Homo sapiens: one gene and its partners. The protein of the gene in region 5 purifies or fractionates together with the protein of the main gene of each other region. This does not show direct contact. Each region holds a gene or a part of one and is shown on either strand. Other genes may lie near its edges. The genes, in order: IBA57, CYRIB, RAB11FIP5, METTL2B, MTPN, PTER and ACSF3.

Region 1 (3,979 bases), on a different chromosome or scaffold from region 5:
GACCCTGGCCTGAAAAAAGCAGAAGTTACCAAGGATGTGATTTGAAGCTGTGATTGTGTCTCATCATGTCACACTGATTAGGGGTGCGGAGGGGTTGTGGGCTGGATGGTGCCTGTCCTTATCCGTGGAGACACTTGGGGATGGAGCCTCCTGCCACCTGCAGCTGAAGTCCCAATGGTCCAGCAAATGAAAAAAATGACACAACAGCCACACGTGGACGCTGGCGAACTGGTAGGAAAGAGGAAGCGGCCGGGTGCGGTAGCTCACGCCTGTAATCCCAGCACTTTGGGAGGCCAAAGCCGGTGAATCGCTTGAGCCTAGGAGTTTGAGACCAGCCTGGACAACATGGGGAGACCATTTCTACAAAAAAAATACAAAAATTAGCTGGTGTGGTGGCTAGCGCCTGTAGTTCCAGCTACTCAAGAGGCTGAGGAGGGAGGACTGCCTGAGCTCTGGAGCTTGAGGCCAGCCTGGGCAACATAACCAAGACCCTGTCTTTACAAAAAATAAAAATAAAAATAAAAATAAAAATAAAATGCTGATACATGCTAGACCGTGGATGGACTTTGAGAATACTATGCTGAGTGAAATAAGCCGTCGCAAACGACAAATCCCGTAGGATTCTGCTCCTGTGAGGTCCCTAGAGGAGGCACGCTCATGGAGCCAGAAGGTACAATGGGAGCTCCAGGGCCTCGGGAGTGGGTGTTTAACAGGGAGTTTCAGGTTGGGAGGATGAAGAGGTTCTCGAGATGAGTGACGGTGCCCGACATGGGTGGGTGAAAACGAGGAAGGCCACCGAATGGGACATGGGATGGCGCTTAAGAGGCCGGCAGAAACCTCGTTACCTACCGAGGGTGGAGCCTGCGTGCTGACGGATAGGCCGAGTCCCCGCCCCGAAACACACCCCGCGCACGATGCTCCGCCCCACACGCATGCCCCACCCACCCAGCAGGCACGCTCGCCCCGCCCGCCCCTTCCAGCTCGGGAGGCCCTGCTCCTCACGCACGCACTCTCAGTCGGCCTCAACCGGCGCTGCTCCGCCCCTCAGGCACGCACGTTCCGTTCACCCCTCACGCACGCACTCTGCGCCCGCCCCTTCCCGCCTCCCTCCGGCGGCCACCGCCAGGGGCCGCTGTGGCACCCGCCCCTCCCGCTTCCTTGGGCCCTTCCCGCTGCCCCACTCTTGTCCAAGATGGCGACCGCGGCGCTGCTTCGAGGCGCCACTCCGGGGCGCGGCGGCCCGGTCTGGCGCTGGCGGCTGCGCGCGGCCCCAAGGTGCCGCCTGGCCCACAGCTCCTGCAGTCCTGGTGGCGACCCAACGGCCGGAGCGGCCTGGGCCTGCTTCCGGCTGGACGGGCGCACCCTGCTGCGCGTGCGTGGCCCCGACGCGGCGCCCTTCCTGCTAGGGCTGCTGACCAATGAACTGCCGCTTCCGAGTCCTGCGGCCGCGGGGGCCCCGCCTGCTGCGCGCGCGGGCTACGCCCACTTCCTGAACGTGCAGGGCCGGACGCTCTATGACGTCATCTTGTACGGGTGAGCGCGTGCTGGGAGGGCGCTCGGGGGCGGGCACCCAGGGGAGTGGCCAGGGACCGGCACCCAGGGACAGGGCGGGCGCCCGGGGCCTGCAGAGGGCGTGGGGGGTGGGCACCCGGGGAGGGCCGGGATGGGGTGGAAGCTCAAGGGTGGGTGGGCCAGCGACTGGCACTCAGGGTCAGGCACCCAGGAGATTCCACTTGGGATGGACACCCAGGGGAAGCTCACCCAGGGCCCAGCACCCGGGGGAGGGCACCCAGAGGAGGGCTTGGCTCAACACCCAGGGATGGGTCAGCGACTCATCCAGGGGAGGCCTGGGGGCCAGCCCACCATATCAGAGCAGAGGCGTCTCTAGGTGGGCACCTCCCAAGTGGGCCATCTGGTGACCCTTCTCCCTCCGCAGGGACAAGGGGTTCAGGGGCCCCGCCTGGTGGCAGAGCTGTGTTTCTGAGTGACAGCTTGTGGTGACACTCCCGAGTTCTGTTTACCTTGTGTTTCCCTGTGTCTCCCCATAGCTGGTCACATTGGCATTTGGCTCAGTCATCTGTGCTGACATCACGACTGTCAGTGATGTTCATGCCGGGTCAGGGCCTTGACTGCTTACAGCCTTGGGTTTCCCTTGCCCAGCTTCCAGGGACCTGGATCCCTGAAACCTCCGCCCGGTGGAGTGGATCTGGTTCGCGGCCGCCTGCCTGCTGTCCCTGCTATGGCGGACCCGGTTCTTGTTCTCTTCAGCTTACTCCTGTGTTTTGGTTTCAGGGGATGGACACCTTTTTAATGACTTCCTGAGCTACGTGGGGTGAATTTTTGGACTCATTGTGTCTCTGCTAGTGGCTTTACCTGATATCCTGGCTGGGTGTAAAAATCTAGCTTGGAAATTGTCACCGACAATGTTCACATCACAACTTTGTTTTCTCGCTGCCAGCTTTTCTGAGAAGTCTGGTGCCGTTCTTATTTGTATGTGAACTGTGTTTTTCTCAGAAGCTTTTCTTTATTCTTGATGTCGTGAAATGTCATGCTGATGTGTCTTAGTTTGGGCTTTTTCCATATCACATCTCTGGGCACTTAGTGGGCTCTTTAAATCTAGAACCAGAGTTGGTGAAATACGGCCCTGAGGTCAGACCCAGCCCATTGCCGGTGTTTATAATAAAATTCTCTGGGAACCCCACCCGTTGGATTCCAGGTGGTCTGGGGCTTCTTTTTTTTTTTTTTTTTTGAGACGGAGTTTTGCTCTTGTTGCCCAGGCTGGAGTGCAATGGCACAATCTTGGCTCATTGCAACCTCTGCCTCCAGGGTTCAAGAGATTCTCCCGCCTCAGCCTCCCAAATAGCTGGGACTACAGGTGCCTGCCACCATGCCCGGCTAATTTTTGTATTTTTAGTAGAGACAGGGTTTCACCATATTGGCCAGGCTGTTTTCACACTCCTGACCTCAGGTGATCCACCCGCCTCGGCCTCCCAAAGTGCAGGGATTACAGGTGTGAGCCACTGTGCCCGGCCTGGGGCTGCTTTTGTCTGGAGTGGTAGAGTTGTGGCACGAGTGTGGCCCTCAAGCCTAAGTTATTCACTGGCCCTTTACAGAAAAAGTGTGCCCACCCTAGCTCAATAGGCTTAAATCTTCATGTCCCAGTTCAGAGATATAGTCATCATAGTCTGTCTTATGTATTCATTACATTCTGTCTAGCTGCTTTAATTTCTTCATCTTAAGAACTACATTCTTTGATTCTCTGGAGCCTTCTATGTTAGTACTTTGCTGTTCACATGTTAGCCTTACAATGATGTTGATTTTGGTCCCCAAATTCCCTTCCATATTTCTATAGTCCTCTCTTGTCCTTTTCCCTTTGAGTCCTAGTTCAATTGAATTCCTATTCTTAATAAGTGTTTTGTGGTGTAAAGTACAGCTGACTTTGCACTACATAGGTCACTTATGCGTGGATTTTCCTTCACCTCTGCCACCCTGAGACGGCAAGACCAACCCTTCTTCTCCTTCCTCCTCCTCAGCCTACTCAACATGGAGACCATGAGGATGAAGATGTTTATGTTGATCCATTTCCATTCAGTGAAGTGGAACTACATTTCCTCTTCCTTAGGATTTTCTTCCTGGGATTTGTAGCTTACCGTATTGTAATACAGTATATAATAGCATAAAACATAAAAAATATGTGCCACTTGACTGCGTATGTTATGCATAAGGCTTCCAGTCAACAGGAGTCTGTTAGTAGTTAAGCTTTTGGGGAGTCAAAGCTTAAAGGTGGGTTTTCAACTGTGTGGGGGCCAGTGTCCCTAGCCCTTGCATCATTCAAGGGTCAGCTGTCTGTCCTTTCTGTGTCTCAGGGCTTTTTCCTCTTCATCCTTTCTTGCCTGGTCTGGAGCTTGTCTGCAGACCTACTGGGCCCCAGCTCCCCTTACCAAGCATATGCTTGGTGGCTCCTCTGTGTCTTTCTATT
Region 2 (3,500 bases), on a different chromosome or scaffold from region 5:
TATTCAGGCAGCTACCGCTTATGCAACACTTTTCATAATCTTTTAAAAACTATTTTTAAACATTTTTTCATAATCTTAATAAAATCATTTGACAGTTCCGCTTAGCTGAAATGATACAGCCTACATTTTATGTGGTAAATATCATTATATAAATATTTCTGTGTTCATGTAATTTTTGTGTTTAAACCCTCAAAAAATCAAGTAATGGGACATCATCTTTTATGTCATGTGAATACTACCAATTAAATCTCTGTAGTCAAATGTTATAAAGTATCGAGATTTTCATTTAAAAATGTTCTAGCAGCTGGGCACAGTGGCTCATGCTGTAATCTCAGCACTCTGGGAGGCCAAGGTGGGTGGATCACTTGAGGTCAGGAGTTTGAGACCAGCCTGGCCAACATGGTGAAACGCTGTCTTTACTAAAAATACAAAATACAGGCACATGCCTGTGATCCCAGCTACTCGGGAGGCTGAGGCAGGAGAAGCACTTGAACCTGGGAGGCCGAGGTTCCAATAAGCCAAGATTGTGCCACTGTACTCTAGCCTGGGTGACAGAGCGAGATTCCAACTCTAAATAACGAAATAATGTTCTAGCATTTGTAGAAGTTTGAGCAACTAAATTAAGTAAAACTAATCTAAGAAAAGACATTAAATAATGACTACTTAATTTTTATTGTAGGAAATACATAAAAATAACAGAACACAAGTCTGAGCACAAATGTAATTACATTCTATTAAGAGGAAAGAGCTAGTTACAAGCCACTTTGTAAGATATTATTTTGTAAAAAGATAACTACTACATAGAGCTATTATCTATATATGTAAAGAAAAAACTCTGGAAGGCTATATGCTAATAGTGGCTTATCTCAAAATGGTGAGATTACATTATTTCTTTTTATTTACATTTTCTTATGTTTTCTGAATTTTATTTATAACTGGTATATAATACTTTTATTACAAAAACAAGCAATCTCTGTTTGAAGAGAAGCAACAAGTAAAAGCCAAAATCTTCAACCAGAAAATGAAGCTGCTATTGTCATGTGTCCCACACATTCCTCATCATAAAATACCGTAACCAGTGTTTGGAAGCAAGATTATCAATAAACAAAATAAGATCTTCATATTTCTAGCTTGAACACTTATTTTTATATCCTATTCACACTTAATGCATTTTCTTTACATAAACATCGACCATTTTCCTTACAGATTTTTTCTGTACATACGTACACGTACATATACACACCTGAGAGCATTTAGAAGACCTTCCACACTATTAGGAGGTTGGTCCTTAAGAACTTTGATACAACCTTTCATCTAAAGAAAAAGAAAACAGAAAAGGTAAAACAGCCATTTTTTTCATGTAACATTCCTTTTCAAAATAGTAAAATAAATCAAGACCATAACTATGGAACTCAAGAGATTACATACTATGTCAAATTAATTATTCTTAGAACAGAAAAAAACCCAACCTAAGAGTTATTATTCTCACTTAGTGAAAACAAAATCTTTTTGAGAACAAAATCAGTCAAACTAATATACCACACATGCAATGAAAAACAAACGGTTTGCTAAGGGAAGACTTCTGGAAAAGGTGCTGAGTGGCGATTTAAAGGACAGAATGGGCTGGGCAGGGTGGCTCAGGCCTGTAATTCCAACACTTTGGGAGGCTGAGGCGGGCGGATCACAAGGTCAGGAGTTCGAGACCATCCTGCCTAACACGGTAAAACCCCGTCTCTACTAAAAATACAAAAAAATTAGCCAGGCGTGGTGGTGGGCGCCTGTAGTCCCAGCTACTCGGGAGGCTGAGGCAGGAGAATGGCGTGAACCCAGGAGGCAGAGCTTGCAGTGAGCCGAGATCGCACTACTGCACTCCAGCCTGGGTGACAGAGCGAGACTCCGTCACAAAAAATAAAATAAAATAAAAAATAAAGGACAGAATGAGTATGTTACTAAGGAAAAGAAGAACTTTCAGGTAGAGAAACCTCACAGAGTAAAGTATCACACAGAGGACAGATAGGAATTTTTCAGCACTGCACCTGGAGTTATGAGAGGCTGAAAGCCAGGATGAGTTATACGAAGTGTTATGCCTGGCAGCAGGGGACTCACAGGTTATTTTAAAAGGTAACCACTTGATGACGATGGTATTTAAGATATATTAGCCTGGTTGTTATAAAAAAGCATAATACAGCAGAAAGAACACAGGCTTTGGAAGCCAGAGAAATGTGGGTTCTACCTTTTCTAGCAACTCTTTTTATTTTTGAGATGGAGTCTCGCTCTGTCACCCAGGCTGGAGTGTAGTGGCGCAATCTTGGTTCACTGCAACCTCTGCCTCCTGGATTTAAGCGATTCTCCCACCTCAGCCTCCCGAGTAGCTGGGACTACAGATGTGTGCCACCACACCCAGCTAATTTTTGTATTTTTTTTCAGTAGAGATGAGGTTTCACCATGTTGGCCAGGCTGGTCTTGAACTCCTAACCTTAGGTGATCCGCCTGCCTCGGCCTGCCAAAGTGCTGGGATTACAGGCATAAACCACTGCACCCGGCCTACTAGCAATTCTATTACTTGATCTGCTAAACTTTAGTTGCCCTGTCAGTAAAGGGAGATGACACCTAAAAGAGTATTTTCAGAGTCACAAGGGAGAACAAACGTAAAATTCCTGGGACATGGCAACCATACAGTAAATATTAACTCATTTCTCTTTACATATGACAGGTGTACATGAAGGCAACAAGCTTGGCTAGTAATCAGTAATCGAGATCCGAAATGCTAAGAGCCTAAACTAGCTATGAAAGGGAAACGGGAAGACAATTCTCACCAAACACTAATGAACTAGATGTGAGAGGTTGGGGAAAGAAACTACGAAGTAGAGAAATTAGAAAACTATTTCTAATACAAACTTTTACAGAGAGAAGAAAAGTCGAGAGCCAACTATAGTCACAAATTATTATGACTAGGTAGGGGAGGGAAAATACATAAAGTCTTCATCTTTTTCCACTGGAGCATCCTACTGGCTGTCTTTTTAATTTCAAGACAGGGTCTCTCTCTCACCCAGACTGAATGCAGTGGTGTGATCGTGGCTCACTGCAGGCTGGAACTCCTGGGCTCAAGGGATCCTCCCACTTCAGCCTCTCAACGTAGCTGTGACTACCGATGTGTGCCACCACACCTGGCTAATTTTTTTTTTTTTTTTGTAGAAATGGGGGTCTCACTATGCTGCCCAGGCTGGTCTTCTACTCCTGGGCTCAAGTGATCCTCCTGCTTCAGCCTGCCAAAGTGCTTGGGCTACAGGCATGAGCCAGCACGCCCAGCAGCACTACTGACTTTTTATATGCATTCTGAAATAAACATTTTATTTGAAATGGCCTTTGGCCAAAGGAATTAAAGGATATGACTCAAAATTCCTTATATCTAATTATCTATTTATATTGCCAAATACGTAGTAGAAGCCTTCCAGGAGGTACTCACTAGACAATATAGTCATCCTTTGATCATTCTATTC
Region 3 (3,500 bases), on a different chromosome or scaffold from region 5:
TCCCCCACATCCTCTCCCTCACCTCAAGGGAGGAGAGTCACCACCACCACCAGGGAGGGACACTGGGGGCAGCCTGGACTCCCTCCCACCCACTTCCCATATGTAGTTCTGGCCCCTTGGGGTTTCTTCCCTTCTTGGGTCCACTTTATCTTCCCCAGTGGATTGGACATTCCTTGGGAACAGAGTGGAGACAGTGTCTTTCATCTGTTCAGCATCTGACACATAGTAGGTGCTCAGTGAATGTGGATGACCAAACATGAATGCCTGGTCGGGAGGCCAGTGCTGGAGCCTGCCCTGCTCTCCCCTCCCTTCACTCGGTCCTCCTAGAGCGCTATCGTCCCAGAGGGACTTGCTGCCTTCTAAGTCACACCCCATCACCTCCCAGTGCCCTGAGTCTCCAGGCCTCTGCCCACATCACCCCTGACCAGCCACCTGGTGAGGTCACAGCTTCATAATTCTTCCAAACCTCCCAATGCCACAGTGAGCACAGTCACACAGGCATCCGCTGTCCACTCAGCGGTCCTAAGTGCATCAGAACCACCCCTTAAAAGGCACCAAACGCAAACCAATGAAGCAACTGCTGCGCGTGGGGAACCTTTCTTCTGAGAGTTACATATGTGGGAAGTGTTTGAGTTTTCCTTTTTCTTCTGAAGGTGTCTGCAGCTTTCTCTCTGACCTAAGTGCTGGTCCCTCCTCTGGCTCTCTGCCTTCCCCAGCCTGCACCCTCACTCTAGCAGAATAGGAAACTGCTCAAGGCTCCACTGCCAGCCTGCTCTGCCACGGTCTGCCCCAAGAACTACCCCCTGATTGACAAGTTCCACCGCCCCCCACCCACAGCTCCCCTGCGGCTGAGTGCACACACTCCAGAAGGGCCTACAGCACTGCTCTCCTTCCCTGCCAGCCCACATCGGCTCTCCCCACTTCATTCCTTATACCCTGCACCTCATCAGTGCTGTTCTCCAAACCCCTGGCTTGTGGGGGGCTGCCTTGATTATCCCAAGTCCCAAGACAGCAGCTTCAGAGGTGGTACCATAGAAAGCTCCTGTCTTCAAAGCCTGTACCGTCTTGCCTCTGGGGTAAAAGAGACCCTCACCTGCCCCACAAAGGATGAGACTGGAGTGTGAACCCCTCAGTCCCTTGGGCTGTTCTGCCCCCTGTCCACCCCCTTCCTCCTGGACAGTGTTCTGGGGGTGGATGCTCACCTGGCACTGGGCTGTGGCTCCTCAGCTGGTCGTGTCTCCAAGGGCAGAAGCACAAGCGGGGAGGCTGGGGTGGCTGCAGCGAGGTCCTCCCTAAGTAGGGCAGGGGAGCCCCCAGGTGGGGAGGGCTCATGGGGGCCAGGGAGTAAGGCTGGCTCCCCTGGTGGTGCAGAGGAGGTAGTCAGGGGCCAGGCTTCAGACAGGGGAGAGCATGGAGGGCTGGGCCCCCCACGGTGGTGGCTGGCCCAAGGCGGGAGAGGGGGCGGTGGAAAGTCAGGCTCTGGGGGAGTGGGCAGCTCTTCTGGACCAGAATGAATAGAAGATTCCCTCGACCCTGGCGGGGATGCAGATGAGAGGCTGGGAGGATCTCGGCTCCCCTGAAACAAGAAGGGGTTCAAGGCATCTTCCTTGGAGACCCACACATCAGCCTGCTGGGAGGTGGCTGACAAGGACCCAAGCCCCTCTCCTACTGGATCCTGGCCCTGGGCCTCAGGAGCCTCAGGGCCTTCTCCAACCTCTGGAGTCCCCCAGATGTGCTGACTCTGAAGAGCCAAGCTCTTTGAGTGACAGGGTATGGGGGCAGGACCCTCAGGGCAGCTGGCGGGTGCAGACAGGCAGGGCCCAGACACAGGGGGGCTGGCATCCTCCACTAGCTCTTCCAGGCCAGGCTGGCCCAGCAGGGTTGCAGAGGAGCAGCTGTCAGACTCCTCCGACTCACGCTTCTCTCCCTCCTCCTTGGTCTCCGGGGGACCGACAACCAGTGCACTTGGGGAGGCATCTTCTCCCTCTGTCTCCGGCCCCCTGTTACTCAGCCCCACTGCGGCCTTCTCCTCCTCCTCCTCCTGGGATCTTGAGGGTGTGAAGAGGCGCGGTGGCTTGGGAGGTGGGGTGCTGGGCTGCAGCCCCTTGTCAGACACCCACTCGGGTTTAGGCTCGGGCTCCGGTGGGGGAAGCCCCTCGCTCCCCTTGGGGCTCACAGTTTCTGGTGATTCAGGCTGCACCTGGGGAGCAGGCTCATCAGACTCTCCCCGAAAGACTAGTGAGGCTGTCTCAGCTGCAGGAGAAATGGTGACCACATCCCAAGGCCAGGCATCATCAGCTGTCTCGACGTCAGGGCAAAGCTGATTTTCGCCTCGGGAGGACTCATCGTCCTGGCCCTCAGCAGCGCTCTCTGGGCCCGGCAGCCTCTCCCACACACTGATCACTTCTGGGGAGCTAAATAGAGATGTCCCACTGTCTGCCGGACTCTGCCCTGCTTCCACTTCCGGGGCTGGCAGTTCCCTGTCTGGTTCTGAGCCTGAGGCTCTCAGCTGTAGCTGGGCTGACGAGGAGGGCAGGCCAGCCCCTACCGACCCGAGGAGCCCTGGGTCAGCCGCGCTCGCGCTCTGGTGGTTCGGTCCCAAGTCCAGAGGAACCCTGGGCTCCAGCCACACGCTGCTCCCACCTCTTCCTCCTCCTCCTCCTCCTCCTCCTCCTCCTCCCCCAGGCTCTCCCTGGGGCTCAGCTGCCTTCGCAGTCATGGCCCCAGGGCCTGGGTCTTGCAGCCCTGCCGCCTCCAGCCCCACTCCTGCAGGGGCCAGGATCTCGCTCCTGGCCTCTGGACGCAGCCTGCTGGCAGCAAAGACGTTGAAGGTGTTGTCCCACTCAGGCAGGGCTTTCCCAGGGGAGGCCAGGGGGGTGGGGCTGGCCCTCGAGGCACTGGGGAGAGAGGGAGCAGGTGAAGGAGAGTTTAGTGCTATGTCGGCTATGAGCTCCTCGAAGAAGGGGTTGCTCTGCAAAGAGGTGAGGAACGGGTTGGTAAGACCCAATAATCCAGGTGGGGTGGCTTCAGGGGCGGCGGTGGTGGCGGCAGCGGCAGCAGTGGCAGCAGCGGGGGAGGCGGCTGCAAAAAGGTTAGTGCTTAGCATGGGAGCAGCAGTGGGAGCAGGAGTGGGAGGGGCCGGAGCCCAGGGGGAGCAGGGGAGGTGGTGAGGAAGAGCAGCTGGGTCAGATTCTACCTGAGGAGACACGTCCAGGCTGTGGAGGGAGACAAAACCGTGAGCCTCCTGGTTAATGCCAAGACTGGAAAGGCCCCTGAGTCCCACGCCCCACCCCCTGCTTCGGGACCAGGGGCCATAACACACACATAGGCTGGATTTACCTACTTGGGCCAGGGTACAGAGGGAAGACCCCAACATGTAACATTATCAAGTGCCTCCCAAGGAGAAATATGCCAGGCAAAGCTATTTTAATGCTCACTCCAACCCCAGAGAGAAATCATCTCATCTGATAGGCAGGATCCGATCCAAACCTAACCAAGTG
Region 4 (3,500 bases), 7.5 Mb from region 5:
TATCTTACTAGAACCCACTTGTTCATGTAATTCACTGGCTTAGAATTGGCATGTTTTCTACTGCCTGTGAATCAGGTTTAAATTGTTGGGCATAGTTTTCAAAGTCCTCTACAAGAGTGTGCCCTATAAAGTATGTCCTCTTATCCCTCAGTGCACTGGTCACACCTTGCATGTCTTCCCCTGACTCCGTACCTTTCCAAAATGTCCTTTGTTTCTACTACTCTATTTCCTTCCTTCCTCACATTCAGATCAGAAGCATCTAGAAAACTTCCCTAGTTGTTATCGTCCAGCTGCCTCACTCTGCAGTCTTTTTCGAGACAGTCTCACTCTGTCACCCAGGCTGGAGTGCAGTGATTCGATCTCGGCTAGCCGCAACCTCCGCCTCCCAGGTTCAAGCAATTATCCTGCCTCAGCCTCCCGAGTAGTTGGGATTACAGGTGCCCACCACCACGCCCAGCTAATTTTTGTATTATTGATTGATTGATTGGTTGATTGAGACGGAGTTTTGCTCTTGTTGCCCAGGCTGGAGTGCAGTGGTGCGATCTTGGCTCACCGCAACCTCTGCCTCCTGGGATCAAGTGATTCTCCTGCCTCAGCCTCCCAAGTAGCTGGGATTACAGGCATGCGCCACCATACCCAGCTAATTTTATGTTTTTAGTAGAGACGGGGTTTCTCCATGTTGGTCAGGCTGGTCTCGAACTCCTGACTTCAGGTGATCCACCCGCCTCAGCCTCCCAAAGTGCTGGGATTACAGGTGTGTGCCACTGTACCCGGCTAATTTCTGTACTTTTTAGTAGAGATGAGCTTTCACCATGTTGGCCAGGCGGGTCTCGAACTCCTGACCTCAGGTGATCCACCCACCTCGGCCTCCCAAAGTGCTGGGATTACAGGCATGAGCCACCATGCCCAGCCCACTCTGCAGTCTTTACAGCCTTTTTATGTTTCTTGAGTTACCCTATTGCCTAGATCCTTTTTTTTTTTTTTTTTTTTTTTTTTTTGAGACAGGATTTCTGTCACCCAAGCTGGAATGCAGTGGTGCCATCACAGCTCACTGTAGCTTCAACCTTCCAGGGTTCAGGTGATCCTCCCACCTCAGCCTCCCAAGTAGCTGGGACAACAGGCGTGTGCCACCACCCCTGCTAATTTTTGTCTTTTTTGTAGAAATGGGGTTTTGCCATGTTGCCCAGGCCAGGGTTCTTAATATTTTTTTAATGTATCTGATAAAGCCTTAGGATCATTTCTCAGGCTAATGTATTTTTCATTTGTTTTCTTTTTATATATAACAGCTTTATTGAGATATAAAGTGTGTAATACAGTGGTTTTTTTGTTTGGTTGGTTTTTTGTTTTGTTTTGGTTTGGTTTTGAGGTGGCATCTTGCCCTGTCGCCCGGGCTGGAGTGCAGTGGCACGATCTTGGCTCACTGCAACCTCTGCCTCCCAGTTTCAAGCGATTCTCCTGCCTCAGCCTCCTGAGTAGCTGGGATTACAAGCGCCCGCCACCACACCCAGCTAATTTTTGTATTTTTAGGATTCACTGTGTTGGCCAGGCTGGTCTCGAACTCCTGACCTCGTGATCTGCCTGCCTCGGCCTGCCAAAGTGCTGGGATTACAGGCGTGAGCCACCGCACCCGGCTGTAATACAGTGGTTTTAAGTTAATTCACAGAGTTGTGCAGCCATCACTGCAGTCAACTTCAGGACATTTTCATCACCCCAAAAAGAATCCCTATACCCATTAGCAGTCACTCCCCATTTCCCAATTTCCCCCAATCTCTAGCCCTAAGCAACCACTACTCTACAAATGCACAAATCTCTATATAGATTTATCTTGGGCTAATTTTAAGTATATGAAGTAAAATAGAGAAAATCAATTATTTTGAAATACAGTTCTATCCTCAGAGCCCAATTAAGGACTCTGATTTTAAAAATAATACTCTTAGCCCTTCATATTCACCTTTTCTGCATCCGAGGATTCAAGCAACCATGGATTGAAAATAAATAGTATAGGCCAGGCGCAGTGGCCCATGCCTATAATCCCAGCACTTTGGAAGGCCAAGGAGATAGGATCACCTGAGCCCAGGAGTTCAAGACGAGCCTGAACAACATAGTGAGACCCCGTCTCTACAAAAAAATTAGCCGCCTGGTGCTGCGGCTCACGCCTGTAATCCCAGCACTTTGGGAGGCCGAGACGGGCAGATCACAAGGTCAGGAGATGGAGACCATCCTGGCTAACACAGTGAAACCCCGTCTCCACTCAAAATACAAAAAAAAATTAGCCAGTCGTGGTGGCAGGCACCTGTAGTCCCAGCTACTCGGGAGGCTGAGGCAGGAGAATGGCATGAACCCAGGAGGCGGAGCTTGCAGTGAGCGGAGATCGCACCACTGCACTCCAGCCTGGGCGACAGAGTGAGACTCCGTCTCAAAAAAAAAAAAAAAAATTGCCAAGCATGCTGGCATGCACGTGTAGTCTCAGCTACTTTGGAGGCTGAGGCCAGAGGATTGGTTGGGGCTGCAGTGAGCCATGATCACACCACTGTACTCCAGGTGACAGAGCAAGACCCTGTCTCAAAAATCAATAAAACAACAATTTTTAAAACTATAACTGTTTACATAGCATTTATATTAGGCGTTATAGATGATTTAATGTATGCAGGAGGATGTGTGTGGGTTGTATGCAAATGCTACACCCGACACCATTGTGTAAGAGACTTGAGCTGGATACCAAGGGACAACTATATGACCTGTAGAAAACTTAAAGAAAAGCACAGGCCGGGCGTGGTGGCTCACTCTTGTAATCCCAGCAGTTTGAGAGGCCAAGGTGGGTAGATCACCTGAGGTCAGGAGTTCGAGCCCAGCCTGGCCAACATGGCGAAACCCCATCTTTACTAAAAATACAAAAATTAACCAGGCGTGGTGGTGGGTGCCTGTAATCCCAGCTACTCAGGAAGCTAAGGCAGGAAAATGGCTTGGACCCAGGAGTGGAGGTTGCAGTGAGCCAAGACCACGCTATTGCACTCCAGCCTGGGTGACAAAAGCAAAACTCCGTCTCAAAAAAAAAAGAAAAGCACAAAGAGGCCAGGCACAGTGGCTCATGCCTGTAATCTGAACACTTTGGGAAGCCAAGGTGGGCAGATTACTTAAGGTCAGGAGTTCAAGACCAACCTAGTCAACATGGTGAAACCCTGTCTCTCCTAAAAATACAAAAATTAACAAGGCATGGTGGTGGGCACCTGTAGTCCCAGCTACTCAGGAGGCTGAGGTGGGAGAATCACTTCAACCTGGGAGGCAGAGGCTGCAGTGAGCTGAGATTGTCCCACTGTACTCCAGCCTGGGTGACACAGCCAAGACCTCGTGTCTCACAAAAAAAAAAAGAAAAACATGAAGAAGAAAACAACGCTTGCCAGGCGCGGTGGCTCACCCCTGAAATTCCAGCACCTGGGGAGGCCGAGGCAGGTGGATCACCTGAGGTCAGGAGTTTGAGACTAGCCTGGCCAACATGGTGA
Region 5 (3,500 bases):
ATGCTTTCTGAATAGGTCACCAGCCCTTCTGTAGAAAGGGCAACACACAGTGATACATTTTTATAAGAAAGAAACTAATAATTTAAAGAAGAAAAAAAAGGGAAGCTGCCTAAAACCAATAAATGCAAAGTAGATTGAATCAGGACCTCTTTTAAATTGGCTATTTTATTAGGAAAGTGAAAAGTGATCTCAATGAGTCTTGGAATTTCTAAAGATTAGAGTTGATATCTTTCTCAGGTTCAAGAGATTCTATCCTTTCACATGGTGCACAATTGTTGCTTTTCAAACCTATTAGAGTGTCAACGGCAGATGTAATTAGAATGGAGGCTGGAGGGAAAGGAAACCACAGAGAAAGGGAAGTTAGAGACCAGGCTTCTATTTCACAGCAAGTGAAATAGAAGTACATGTAAACAAGAGAGTACATGTATCAGACCTGCTGAAGATTAAAAGGGGCTATTTATCAATGCAACTCACAAGCACTCACCTGTAAGCATGTTGGATCCTCAAAATCCACCAGAAAGCTCACCTTTTAGTAGTCTCAATGGATAATTACCATCCTGCTATGATTATTTTTACTATTTACTCAATAATATAGTACCCCCCTAGTTTCTGGCCTTATTGAGAAATGAAGGTCAAGGGTATGCTGAAGTAGTTAACAGCATGGGGCTTTTGAAACTCCTTCAGAACCCAAGGAAGTGAGTTCACATCTCAGCTTCACCACTTAAGAACTTTATGATCTTGAGCAAGTTATTTAATCTCTGCCTCTAAAATCTCTAAAATGGGGTTAACATTATTAATAATGCTCATGGCTTACTGTTGATAAGTAAATGAAATAATACCTGTATACTGCATCACAATCCTCAAATACATAAAATTTAATAAACATACTTTTTTCAAAATGTTACTTGTTTTATTTAAATAATTATGAATAGAAATCTCAATAATTTAGTTATTTTTGTTTCTTCCTAAGGCAAACAAACAAAATTTAACTTTTTCTGGACTGTGTAGGATCACAATTAGGAACATAAATTATAAGGTTAGATTATATGTGACCATAAATACAAAACATTCTGCAGGCTATCAGTCACTCTTATGGACACGTCTTGAGTAATGACAGTCTCTGATGAGAGTTTAAGTTTACAGAGATGTTTGTCTCTATACTAATTATTTCTGAATTGTTACATTTACAATTTTTAAAATACGGTTGCCATTTTTGTCTTCATTCACAGTCAGAGCTAATTAGTTGTACCGGCTTCTTACAAGCCTCTTTCTCGTTTTCTTAATTCTAAAGTGTTGTTAGCAAAAAAAAAAACCACTTTTAAAGCAAACTGATATGGTTATAAATACACACGCGCACACGCGCACGCGCGCGCACACACACACACACACACACACACACACCCCATGTAGATTCAGACAGTTCTGGGTTTAAAATCCAGTTATGCTACTTAGTTTGTGACCTTGTCAAGTTACTTCAGTTCTCTAAGCCTCAGGTTCTTCATCCTTAAAATAAGATTATTACTTATACTGAAACACTGTGGTAAGAAGCAAATAAAAACTTAGGTAAAACATCTTGCAGAGTGCTTTCCAGTACCTGACAATGTAAGTCATCCAGTCAATGGTAATTATTATTCTGTAATTAATGAAGTATGCTGAAATTATTGCTAAGTTAAGAATAAAATGAATTTCTTACCAGAAACATGATTTTAATGTGTAAAATTCCTTGGCGCTATGTTGGAGACAGAAAGATGAAAAAGAATATATTATCTACCCTCCAGGAGTTCAGAGCCTAATGAAGACACATGTAAACAAAATCACAGCAATCTGATGAGCAAAACAGTAAAAGAAGCAGCACTCTATGTGAAGTCAATCTTTTTCAGCCAGTCTCCCTCACTGCCCTTAAAATATTAATACTTTTGTGATTTCTCATTGCTTATTTTAAAAGGGCCAACTCCTCATCGGTATGGTGTTTTTCTGTTAGAGGTGATACTTACCCTAGGAGGGTAAATAGGAGTTTAACAGGTTGGGGGTTAGGGATTGAGGTGAGCAGACTTGGTCAGGGAGGATGAAAGAACACATGTAAAGATCTACAAGGAAGAAACAGGATGGCAGGGTCTGGAGCAGAGTGCTTAGAGAGAGGCAAGTGTAGAAAAGCAAGCCCAGATAATAGTGGCCTAGTACACCATACCAATGAGGAGCTGGCCCTTTTAAAATAAGCAGTGAGAAATCACAAAAGTATTAATATTTTAAGGGCAGTGCAGGAGACTGGCTGAAAAAGATTACATGCTTATATTCATGTTATTGAGAGATCCCTCCACCTAAACTGTGTAAACTGACCAGGAAGGGGTCAATTTTTGCTGCTTCTTTCCAGCCTGGACTATATATTCTTTCTTGACTATTTTCTTATAGTCAAGAAAGAAAATATAGTCCAGGCTGGAAAGAAGCAGCAACTGATCTAAAGTAGTAAGAAGAAAGGAGAGTGAGGAATGGATGAGGGAGACTAAGAAGGTAGTCTTGGTAACCCTCAGAAATCTAGGAAAATTTCCCAGTTTCCAGTTTGGACAAATGGTTGGGTCATGATACCATTAGTGAAAATGGAGACACAATAGGAATAAAAACAGTTTTTGAGAGGAAAACAGCTCAATTTGGAATTTGTCTGAACAGAGCTTATGCAGTCTGAAATTCAGGTGAGGCTAGAATTAACTCCAACAGGAGAACATAAAGGCAGAAATGTAAGACAAAGTCAAAAATAATGTCACCCAAAAGAAACATCCAGATCAAAAATGGGGCTATGAATATCTCTTATAGCTGCTCATGAATACCTTATTTTCTGGCTTTCACTTGTTTTCCAGCCGGACAACTGAATTTTATGAAAATGAGATGTTATTTATAATTTGCATACTACTATAAAAGTATGAATTTTTTTTCACGCAGGTCTGCTAAATATAGATGCTTACGTTTCCTGAAAACTGTGTCGAACTTCTGTACTATCATCCCAGGACTACTAAAGAGTTTAAGACCTGAAAGATGCCTAGTAAAAATGAATGAATTAACTAAATGTGGTCCTTAAGTCAGTCAAGAAGCCAAATGTAGTGTTGAAAGACTTTAAAATTGCTTCAGATATTGTCTTAAAGTTATACATGAAACATTTAATGTAATAATCTAAATTTTTCTCTAAATAATCTAAATTTTTCTCTCAATACTGTCTTTTCCATTTCAAAATACAATTTTCAGTGGTTTGGGGACTGTGAACTGACTTTTCTAAGTTCAAGAACTCACCTAAAACCAATGATTTAGGGATACTCACACTTCGAACTTTAATAGAGAAGTCAGAGGCAGGTAGAAAAGTGTAATTACTGACTTTTAAAAATACTAATTTATAAAGGAAAAACGGGTTCACACCTGTGAACCAGTGCTTTCACACCTGTAATCCCAGTGCTTTGGGAGGCCGAGGCCAGAAGATCGCTTGAGGCTAGGAGTTTGAGACCAGCCTGTACAAC
Region 6 (4,236 bases), on a different chromosome or scaffold from region 5:
AGACAAATCTAAGACATTGAATTATTTCTTCTATATATATGATACTTTGGTGTACTGTGATCTTGCTGCTTTTATCCATATGTCAGCTTTGGTTCTTGTGAGTTTACCTGCTTATTATGATACTTGGAGTCCATTCATAGTGTGGGGAAGAATGATTTTTGCCCTGCAGGAGAAGGTCTAATTGAAATAATGCTGCTTGTCCCCAAAGAAATTGTTTGCCTTGTACTCTTGTTAACCTTAGAGCTAGACCTGGGAATGATTCAACTTCAAGCCTTAACCTGGAATTTTCTGGATTTGAGGGAATTCCCAAGCCTATGATCTTTTTCACATTTTCTTTTTCTTATATGAATTTTCTTTTCTCTCTTTTCTGGTGATAGTCTTTAAAAATAGAGATTGACAGTGTATCATAGGATTACCCTCTAAGTGTGAAAATGTGTAATTATGTACGGTATTTAGAAAAAGCCCTTATGTGTCCATTTTGTCAACTGAATACATTTAGATTCACTGGGAAAGTCAGAGAAATTTATTCTTTAGTATCAAATCAAACCGAGGCTTTTGCCATCTTTGGAAGAAAAGATTATTCATAACCCAATGCACAAAGGTTTAATTTGAGCTGCTGCATACGTCACCAAGGGGACACTAGGTGAGGCCTTCAAATGATTACTACAAGTCTGTGGCCTGAGGTTATTTTAAAATTAACAATTTCGCATATAGCCTATATGACAACAGAGTGTTTATATTTTATACAAATATCTGCTAAACATGCACACATATACTCACACACACATATATATATTAGATGAAATGTTTTATTTATGTATAAAACATATACATATAAAACATTTATATATATGGCTTTATTCCACAGGGCACAGTGGCTGTATAGCCTCAAAATTTTAATATAAAAAAGTGTATGCATATATACACACACAAACATGCACAAATTATTTAACTTATTTTGGGTTAAAATATATTTTGAATGACAATATATGGAGTAGCAAAAACAGTTAAAATGACTTCTCTTTAAGAGTTATCCAGAAAATTAATTGTATTAGGTCAAAATGCCCTTTATTTCACAGGTCTGTAAGTTAAGGCTATGGTTGCTCTATTACCATATGCCAATCAATACTTTAACTGCATTCTGTGACAGACTGTTAATATGAGGACTGCAGACACCAAGTGGCTCTCCTTTGCAGTGTTTATGAATTACATGCATTTGAGCTATCAATTTTTTTTTCTTTTTTCTCAGGTGGAGTGAAGCTGACAGTACAGTAGATTTGGAGAGTAATACAAATCCTTTCTTTCTGGTTAGAACACACTGCCAAAAGCCATCTCTTTCATCTAAGGAAAAGATTAAAAATGCATGTTGATATCTCCTAACTATCACACAACTTCCACTATTACAATGAAAAATCTGTTCCCCTTTCATTGCCTCTGAAAACTCTTTGACGAGTAGATTTCAAAAACAGAGATTTTAAAAATTTGCTTGCTTTACTGGTGAAGGACATTTGCATTTTTTTTTTTTATTTATTTAAAGGAATTAGTTTGTTCTCCTGGCTCATTCCTCTTTGTTACTTTCTGTTCCAATACACAGAAAGCTTGATCATCTTTGATCAGCAGAAATATCTTTTATTTAGCAAAGCTCAACTTCCCAAGAGTTATGCATGGTGTGCCTATCTGAAGGTGGTGTTAGCTCTGTTGAAATGCCTGGGTCTGAGTAACTGTCATGATTTTTATGATTAAAAACAGACTCTTCATCAAGAATAATGACTAATTCTAATTGGTCTTTGTGATATGTAAGATAACTCATAAATGAATTGCAATGGATTTTATTTCGAATTAACTATATATTTATCAAAGAGGAACTGGCAGCAAGGGTTTGGAGAATATTTTTAGGTACCAAATAGCATAGTGAGGATTCAACCAAAAGATGAATTTATAAGCAGCAGTGCCCATCACCTAAGTGTTTTAACTAACAGGTTTTAAAAACATTTTATTTACACAAAATATCAGGGCTGGATACCTTTTAAAGAGGAGGCTCAAGTATCGGGCTGTCATTTCCAATAGATCTGACCTTTTCTTCAGATACATAAGCATTATTTTCTCTGTTTAGGTCCAAGGAAAAACAAAAGGTAAAGGAAATAAAGGGAATATACATAAGGCAAACATTTCTCTTTTTTTTTTTGCATTATATCTTACCAATTAATTAAATTGTGGCCTTTGTTATTATAAATGTAATGATTCATTAAACTATATTATGTAATATATTTTGACTTTTATGATTGAATTTTTATAATTCAGTAGTGTTATGTGTTCTTATACAAACTTTGCAAAACAGCAAAATGTATGGCAAAAATAGATACCGGAAAGCCAAAGATATCAAAATCATTTCAGTAGAAGAATATATAGATAGGTGGACAGTATAAAATTAACCTTTCAAAATATTTTTATCATTGTGAATTGGTAATTGTATTACAGTCAGTATCCTTTGGGGAAAAAAGTCTCAAAATTTAACTTCCCTTGTTGCAGAAGCTATTTTACAGTGCCATATTATTCATTAAGCATTAATTAAAGAACAGCAGGATAATTAGTAGGATCATCAATATTACAAGAAACATTAGATCGCTCAAGAAGGAAATAATTTAACTAGAAACACTTTAAATTTTCTCAAGTAGTGCAGCTGATAGATTAGGGAGAAAAACAACAACTCCGCTTAGGGGATATAGACTTTAAATCATTGTTTAGAAATAGGTACTTCTGTATTTATTTTGTTAAGTTAAAATAATAGGGCTCAATTAGGCTGAGTAACTCCCTAGAGGCACAGTTGTAATAGCTGGTCTCAGAGAAGGCAAACCCTCCTAGTTCTCATCAGAAGGAAATGATCTGTCATTAGTCCTAGGTAACTGATTAATATCTCACAGTGGACTGGAAATCGCTGAATGTTCTCTGCAAGTTTTATACTCAAGGTGTGAATTCATAAGCAACCATCCTATTTGAAAGTTAGCCATTGCTTAGGGTTCTCTATTAGAATCTTATCAAGCACATTCTCAGTTATGCCTCTCAGCAACATTTTAGGAACAACATTGGTGAGTATATGAGAATAGCCGTGACCTCCATATTTCATCAGCCGGGTTTTCGTATGTATGTCATGTGCTACCAGAATTCGATCTTCACAGCCCTCTTCCACCAGGAGACGCACCCTGTGAAAAATGTTAACTCATTAGATGTCATTTGTCTTTCATTTTCGCTTTTCAGGATGCTTTCAACTTTTTACTCATTAACCTATTGTGCTTGTCGTAAAGATACTGACTTCTACTGTGGCGTGTGTACTGAGAGACCTTTAATAAATATTGTGTGGTGACGATAAAAATATTGCTGCATCCTAGCAGGAACATATCCTTATTCCATGCATACAGAAATTTCTAACCTGTGACATTTATGACCATGCCTGGCAATACCGCATTAAAGATAGCTTCTAATAGGATGTGCCAGTTTGGATGAATGACCATTTTGGCATTTCACTAAATAACTTTGTTCTGGATTTGTATTCAGCAATCCTCTCTCAAATGCCTCTCCCTGTGGGCCCATTTTTCAGATCTCATTCTTGCTCTCTCCTTTTATCTGGCCAAAAAATATCAAGGACTGTTTGCGATTAAAATAGGGAAACAAAAGGAATCTCACTACAAGTAAAATATTCTGAGAGCAAAATCAGTTGGTCTGCAAGTGAGGGGCATTTGATAAGCTACAAAGCCACTGAAAAAAGGTTGGTCAGCATTTTAACCATTTGCCCCTTTGAAGTCTATGGCAATTTTGATTTAGTTGTAGCCTCTGAGCATTGGATTAAACTGACCAATACAAATATATTCTGTCTTCTTTCCATGTCAGCAAGATTGCTAAAATAATAAGCTGTTCCTTTAAATTTATAGTCAGTGGACTAAAGAACAGCTTCCTGACTATTCTCTAAAAATGAAATCCTCTTTGCTTTGTTAAATGCTGGAATCTGTAGTGTGAGTCACCTCCTGACAGCCACCATCTGTACGTGTCTGGACTCTGGGCAGTGTCTGTCGTGACTTCCATGGGTCTTTGATGGTAGAAGATGCCACTCACAGACAATGGCTCTTCTATGGGATTCTCTGAATAGTTTTTTTGGCGTCTAGATTCTAAAGTGGATCTAGACGGACGGACAGTGCCTTCCTCCAGAGGCTGATTATTTGAAAGGTATCTTTTTTGTTTCAA
Region 7 (3,500 bases), on a different chromosome or scaffold from region 5:
TGAGTGTTTTTACATTTTTATTTTTAAGCCAAAGTTACACACCTGTGGCTTAAACACCCAAGTAGTTGTAGCAGTTTGAGAAGAAGAATCACAGCCGTGCCCCTTCCCCAGACTCGCCGGCTGCTGCTTCTGTGCGGTCCCCGCATCCCGAGGGCCGCCAGCACCGCCACCTCCAGGCTCCTTTTTGCTGCCATGGCTTGAGTCCCGCAGAGGAGGCCCCTCCTCAGGCACGGCCCGGCTCAGTCCCGTATGGCATCTGCACTATTGAGACTATGGAGTCGCCGCTGAGAACTGAGCCCAGGAGACACTGAGGTTTTTCCTCTTTCTTTGTTTTCCAGAGTCGGGAAAGTCTTGGTTTTCTTGGTCTCCTGGTGCCAATTCCTCGTGGGCTGGGCTGGTCTCCCCATGGCGCCTCCTTCCCCATCACCACCACCCCTTCCCTCCTACCGGGTCAGGACGTCGGCTCCCAGCCCACAGCATCCTCGTCTTCCCTCTTCCGCCCCCAGCTGTGGGGACTGCTTTCCCCTGGGGCTTCCTGAGGCGGGTGTGTAGGGTCCGTACTTGGAGACTTGCGTGTCTCTCCGGGTCTTCGTTCTGCCCTCAGCCTTGCTTGTCGGTTTGGCTGCGTATAGGGTTCAGGGTTAGAAGTCGCTTCTCTATCATTTTCTGGCCTTCAGATTTGCTGCTGCCACAGCCGTGCTGAATCCTGGCACTTGGTGACCCCCTCCTTTTTTTTTCTGTTTTTTTTTTTTTTTTTTTCGAGACAGAGTCTTGCTCTGTCGCCAGACTGGAGTGCAGTGGCGCCATCTCGGCTCAGTGCAACCTCCGCCTTCCGGGTTCAAGCAATTCTCCTGCTTCAGCCTCCCGAGAGTAGCTGGGATTACAGGCGCCCACCACCACACCTGGCTGATTTTTGTATTTTTAGTAGAGACGGGGTTTCACCATGTTGGCCAGGATGGTCTCGATCTCCTGACCTCGTGATCTCCCCACCTCAGCGTCCCAAAGTGCTGGAATTACAGGCATGAGCCACCGCACCCAACCATGACCCCCTCTTTTTAACGTACAGGGTGTCCTCTGTCCCCAGACCCCTGAGCCCAGGTTGAGGAGCCACCAGCTGAGGACGGAGCCAAGGTCACGGAGCTGCCGGGTGAGCGCTGAGCCCAGGTCAGGGAGTTGGGTCTCAGGCCGTCACTGGGACTCCCTCTGCCTTCAAGAAGCCTCTTTCACCCTTGGCCCACAGAGGAGACCTGGATGGCACTGGGGTCCAGGTGCAGAAGCCTCCAGTGTCCACGGGCACCTGAGCTTCCAGCACCTTCCCTCCTGCTGGGCGGTGGCCTGTGCCTGGCCGCAATGGAGGCCGCCTTCCCCACTGCCCCTCTGAGCCTCAGTCTGTCCTCCCTGCAGCCACCTCCCCTGGCCAGGTGCCCCGGGGTAACTGGTGGAGGCTTTCACGTAACTTGGTTTCCAGCTGCCTCTGTACACACACAGGCACCTGTTCCAGGCTTGGCCTCTCTGTACACACACACGGGCACCTGTTCCAGGCTTGGAGGCTGAGAACTTGGGGGCAGAGATCTCAGGGCATCGGCTTGGGCGGGGTCCTTGGGCAGGGCCTTGGGCTTCCCTCGGCACTTTCCTCAAGGACTGGGGCCAAGCTTCACATTCTGTTGCTGGCATCAGTGCCATTTGGGAGCAAAAGTCCGACAGGCTGGGTCTGGGCCTCTCTTCACCTTGTTTCCTGGGATCGCGCTTTGGGTGCTGGTGTCACTCCAGATCCAGGCTCGGGAACCACATCTGCACAGCAGAACAGGCGCTGTTCTTATCTTGCGTGCGGGTCAGGACATCCCCCCGGCCAGGAGTGCTTCCTCCGAGGCCCACAGACAAGTTCTCGCTGGGGGACTGGGGACCACAGCACCTCACTCCACCTACACTCTAGAGAATTCAAATCTGAGTATTGGAAGATTTATTTTCAGTTACAGTGGAAGGCAGAGACATGAAATAGCACCAAATTCAAAAGCAGCTCATAAATCCAGGTAATAGGAGTTTATTGATTGCTACATTGTATCTGTCAGAAGAAAACTCCTTTAATGAACACATCAGGCCGAGGACATACACAGCCCATTGGCAGCCGACTCCGATTCCAGAATCGATGCATTTTGATAAATAGGTTGTTATGGAAAGTAAAGGTTATTTAACTTGTTTGACTTGCATTTCACAGTGATCGCAAGTTGCCCTGGAGCCCTCTGAACCTTCTGAGTCGCCCTCGCTGCCGCAGGACCTCCTCCCGCGGGGTGTCCGACCCGCTCTTGCTTGGCTGAGACTTTGTTTAAACCCTGGCTCCGATGCCTCTGAGCCCTTGATAGCAGCGTCCCAGCCTGGAAGAACAAAACCAGCCACTTTTCCCCTTGGCAAAGGCACAGCAAGGCGGGTGAGGCGGGCGCTGAGTAGTCTGGGAATGGGCAGGGAGATGTCGACCCTCGGAGCTGAGACTGCTCTGTGCTGAGAAGCTAGAACAAAGCCTGACATGTTCCAAGGGGCAAGCTCAGGGCTGGGAGGGAAGCAGCGGGGCCGCCCCTTTGGGTGGGGGTGCCCAGGCCTTGCAGACAAGACACTGGCCAGAGGAGGTGGAGCAGGGGTACTGGGGCAGAGGGGCCATGTTTGTGCAGCAGGATGGACCCTGGAGGGCCCCGGCCTAGAGGGGGCCTTTGCCAGGAAGATGCCAGGAACGTCCAGGCCAAGGCGTCCGGGCAAAGGCATCCAGGCCCGGGAGACGCATGTGGGACTTGGGCTTTCCTCTGTGGGCAGTGGGAAGTCTCTCCCTACCCCTGGAAGGAGCTCCAGGCAGCAGTGAGGATGGGGATTCTGACACTGGAGTGGGGAGCCGGCCCTGTGGTGCTGGCTGGGCTGAGAGCGGCACCACCTTCTGATGCCCAGGGTGGGAAGGACACACGACTGCCACCATGCACTGAGGGCCCTGCACGCCACACACGTGCTCTGAGCACTGAGGGTCCCCTCATGCCACGCACAAGTTCTGGGCACAGAAGCACCTCTCAGAATCATCCCCGAGACAGGCGTCCATCACAGAGACAGGTCTCAGTCCTGCACTGATTGGCTTCGCCCAGTGCTGCTGGGGGAGTCTCAGACACAGCCTTTTTCCGACAGGTATAGCTGCCACTTTCTCCGGCACAGAAGCCTGGGGCCCTGGGAATGGCACCATGTTGCGCGCCGACCCCTACGGTTCTTCCCTCCGCATGGCTCAGTGGAAACCGTGCGTGCAGCACAGCAGGCAGCTGGGGCCTGTGACGACCCTGGGGTTGGAGGCCAGGCAGGGCTATCACTGAGAAGCAGGGATTTGGGGCCTGGGGCCCAGGGAATGGACAACTCCCCAAGCTGCCCCCACCAGTCCTTCCTGAGCACTGGCTCTGGAAGAAGCATCTCGGGGCAGAGGCAGCCAGGCCCAGGCAGGGAGAGACCCCCAAACAAGGCCTACAGCAGGGTCTCAG

The links.
Region 1: the proteins of MTPN (region 5) and IBA57 purify together in Homo sapiens (affinity purification with mass spectrometry; one large-scale study listed by BioGRID and IntAct). This does not show direct contact.
Region 2: the proteins of MTPN (region 5) and CYRIB purify together in Homo sapiens (affinity purification with mass spectrometry; one large-scale study listed by BioGRID and IntAct). This does not show direct contact.
Region 3: the proteins of MTPN (region 5) and RAB11FIP5 fractionate together in Homo sapiens (co-fractionation; one large-scale study listed by BioGRID). This does not show direct contact.
Region 4: the proteins of MTPN (region 5) and METTL2B purify together in Homo sapiens (affinity purification with mass spectrometry; one large-scale study listed by BioGRID and IntAct). This does not show direct contact.
Region 6: the proteins of MTPN (region 5) and PTER purify together in Homo sapiens (affinity purification with mass spectrometry; one large-scale study listed by BioGRID and IntAct). This does not show direct contact.
Region 7: the proteins of MTPN (region 5) and ACSF3 purify together in Homo sapiens (affinity purification with mass spectrometry; one large-scale study listed by BioGRID and IntAct). This does not show direct contact.

The regions. Positions count from the first base shown.
Region 1 is NC_000001.11:228,164,625-228,168,603, forward strand, and holds the start of IBA57 (iron-sulfur cluster assembly factor IBA57, mitochondrial isoform 1 precursor), read left to right. Parts: upstream 1-1,179; 5' UTR 1,180-1,192; coding exon 1,193-1,533; intron 1,534-3,979. UniProt on the Homo sapiens protein: Mitochondrial protein involved in the maturation of mitochondrial [4Fe-4S]-proteins in the late stage of the iron-sulfur cluster assembly pathway. Operates in cooperation with ISCA2 in the maturation of [4Fe-4S] proteins.
Region 2 is NC_000008.11:129,845,561-129,849,060, forward strand, and holds part of CYRIB (CYFIP-related Rac1 interactor B), read right to left. Parts: intron 1,315-3,500; coding exon 1,244-1,314; intron 1-1,243. UniProt on the Homo sapiens protein: Negatively regulates RAC1 signaling and RAC1-driven cytoskeletal remodeling. Regulates chemotaxis, cell migration and epithelial polarization by controlling the polarity, plasticity, duration and extent of protrusions.
Region 3 is NC_000002.12:73,078,449-73,081,948, forward strand, and holds part of RAB11FIP5 (rab11 family-interacting protein 5), read right to left. Parts: intron 3,216-3,500; coding exon 1,203-3,215; intron 1-1,202. UniProt on the Homo sapiens protein: Rab effector involved in protein trafficking from apical recycling endosomes to the apical plasma membrane. Involved in insulin granule exocytosis. May regulate V-ATPase intracellular transport in response to extracellular acidosis.
Region 4 is NC_000007.14:128,483,248-128,486,747, forward strand, and holds part of METTL2B (tRNA N(3)-cytidine methyltransferase METTL2B), read left to right. Parts: intron 1-3,500. UniProt on the Homo sapiens protein: S-adenosyl-L-methionine-dependent methyltransferase that mediates N(3)-methylcytidine modification of residue 32 of the tRNA anticodon loop of tRNA(Thr)(UGU) and tRNA(Arg)(CCU).
Region 5 is NC_000007.14:135,970,860-135,974,359, forward strand, and holds part of MTPN (myotrophin), read right to left. Parts: intron 1-3,500. UniProt on the Homo sapiens protein: Promotes dimerization of NF-kappa-B subunits and regulates NF-kappa-B transcription factor activity. Plays a role in the regulation of the growth of actin filaments.
Region 6 is NC_000010.11:16,510,010-16,514,245, reverse strand, and holds the end of PTER (N-acetyltaurine hydrolase), read right to left. Parts: intron 3,201-4,236; coding exon 2,990-3,200; 3' UTR 501-2,989; downstream 1-500. UniProt on the Homo sapiens protein: N-acetyltaurine hydrolase that regulates feeding by catalyzing the hydrolysis of N-acetyltaurine into taurine and acetate. N-acetyltaurine has anorexigenic and anti-obesity effects that are dependent on GFRAL receptor and GDF15.
Region 7 is NC_000016.10:89,138,852-89,142,351, forward strand, and holds part of ACSF3 (malonate--CoA ligase ACSF3, mitochondrial isoform 1 precursor), read left to right. Parts: intron 1-2,215; exon of another isoform or gene 2,216-2,425; intron 2,426-3,500. UniProt on the Homo sapiens protein: Catalyzes the initial reaction in intramitochondrial fatty acid synthesis, by activating malonate and methylmalonate, but not acetate, into their respective CoA thioester. May have some preference toward very-long-chain substrates.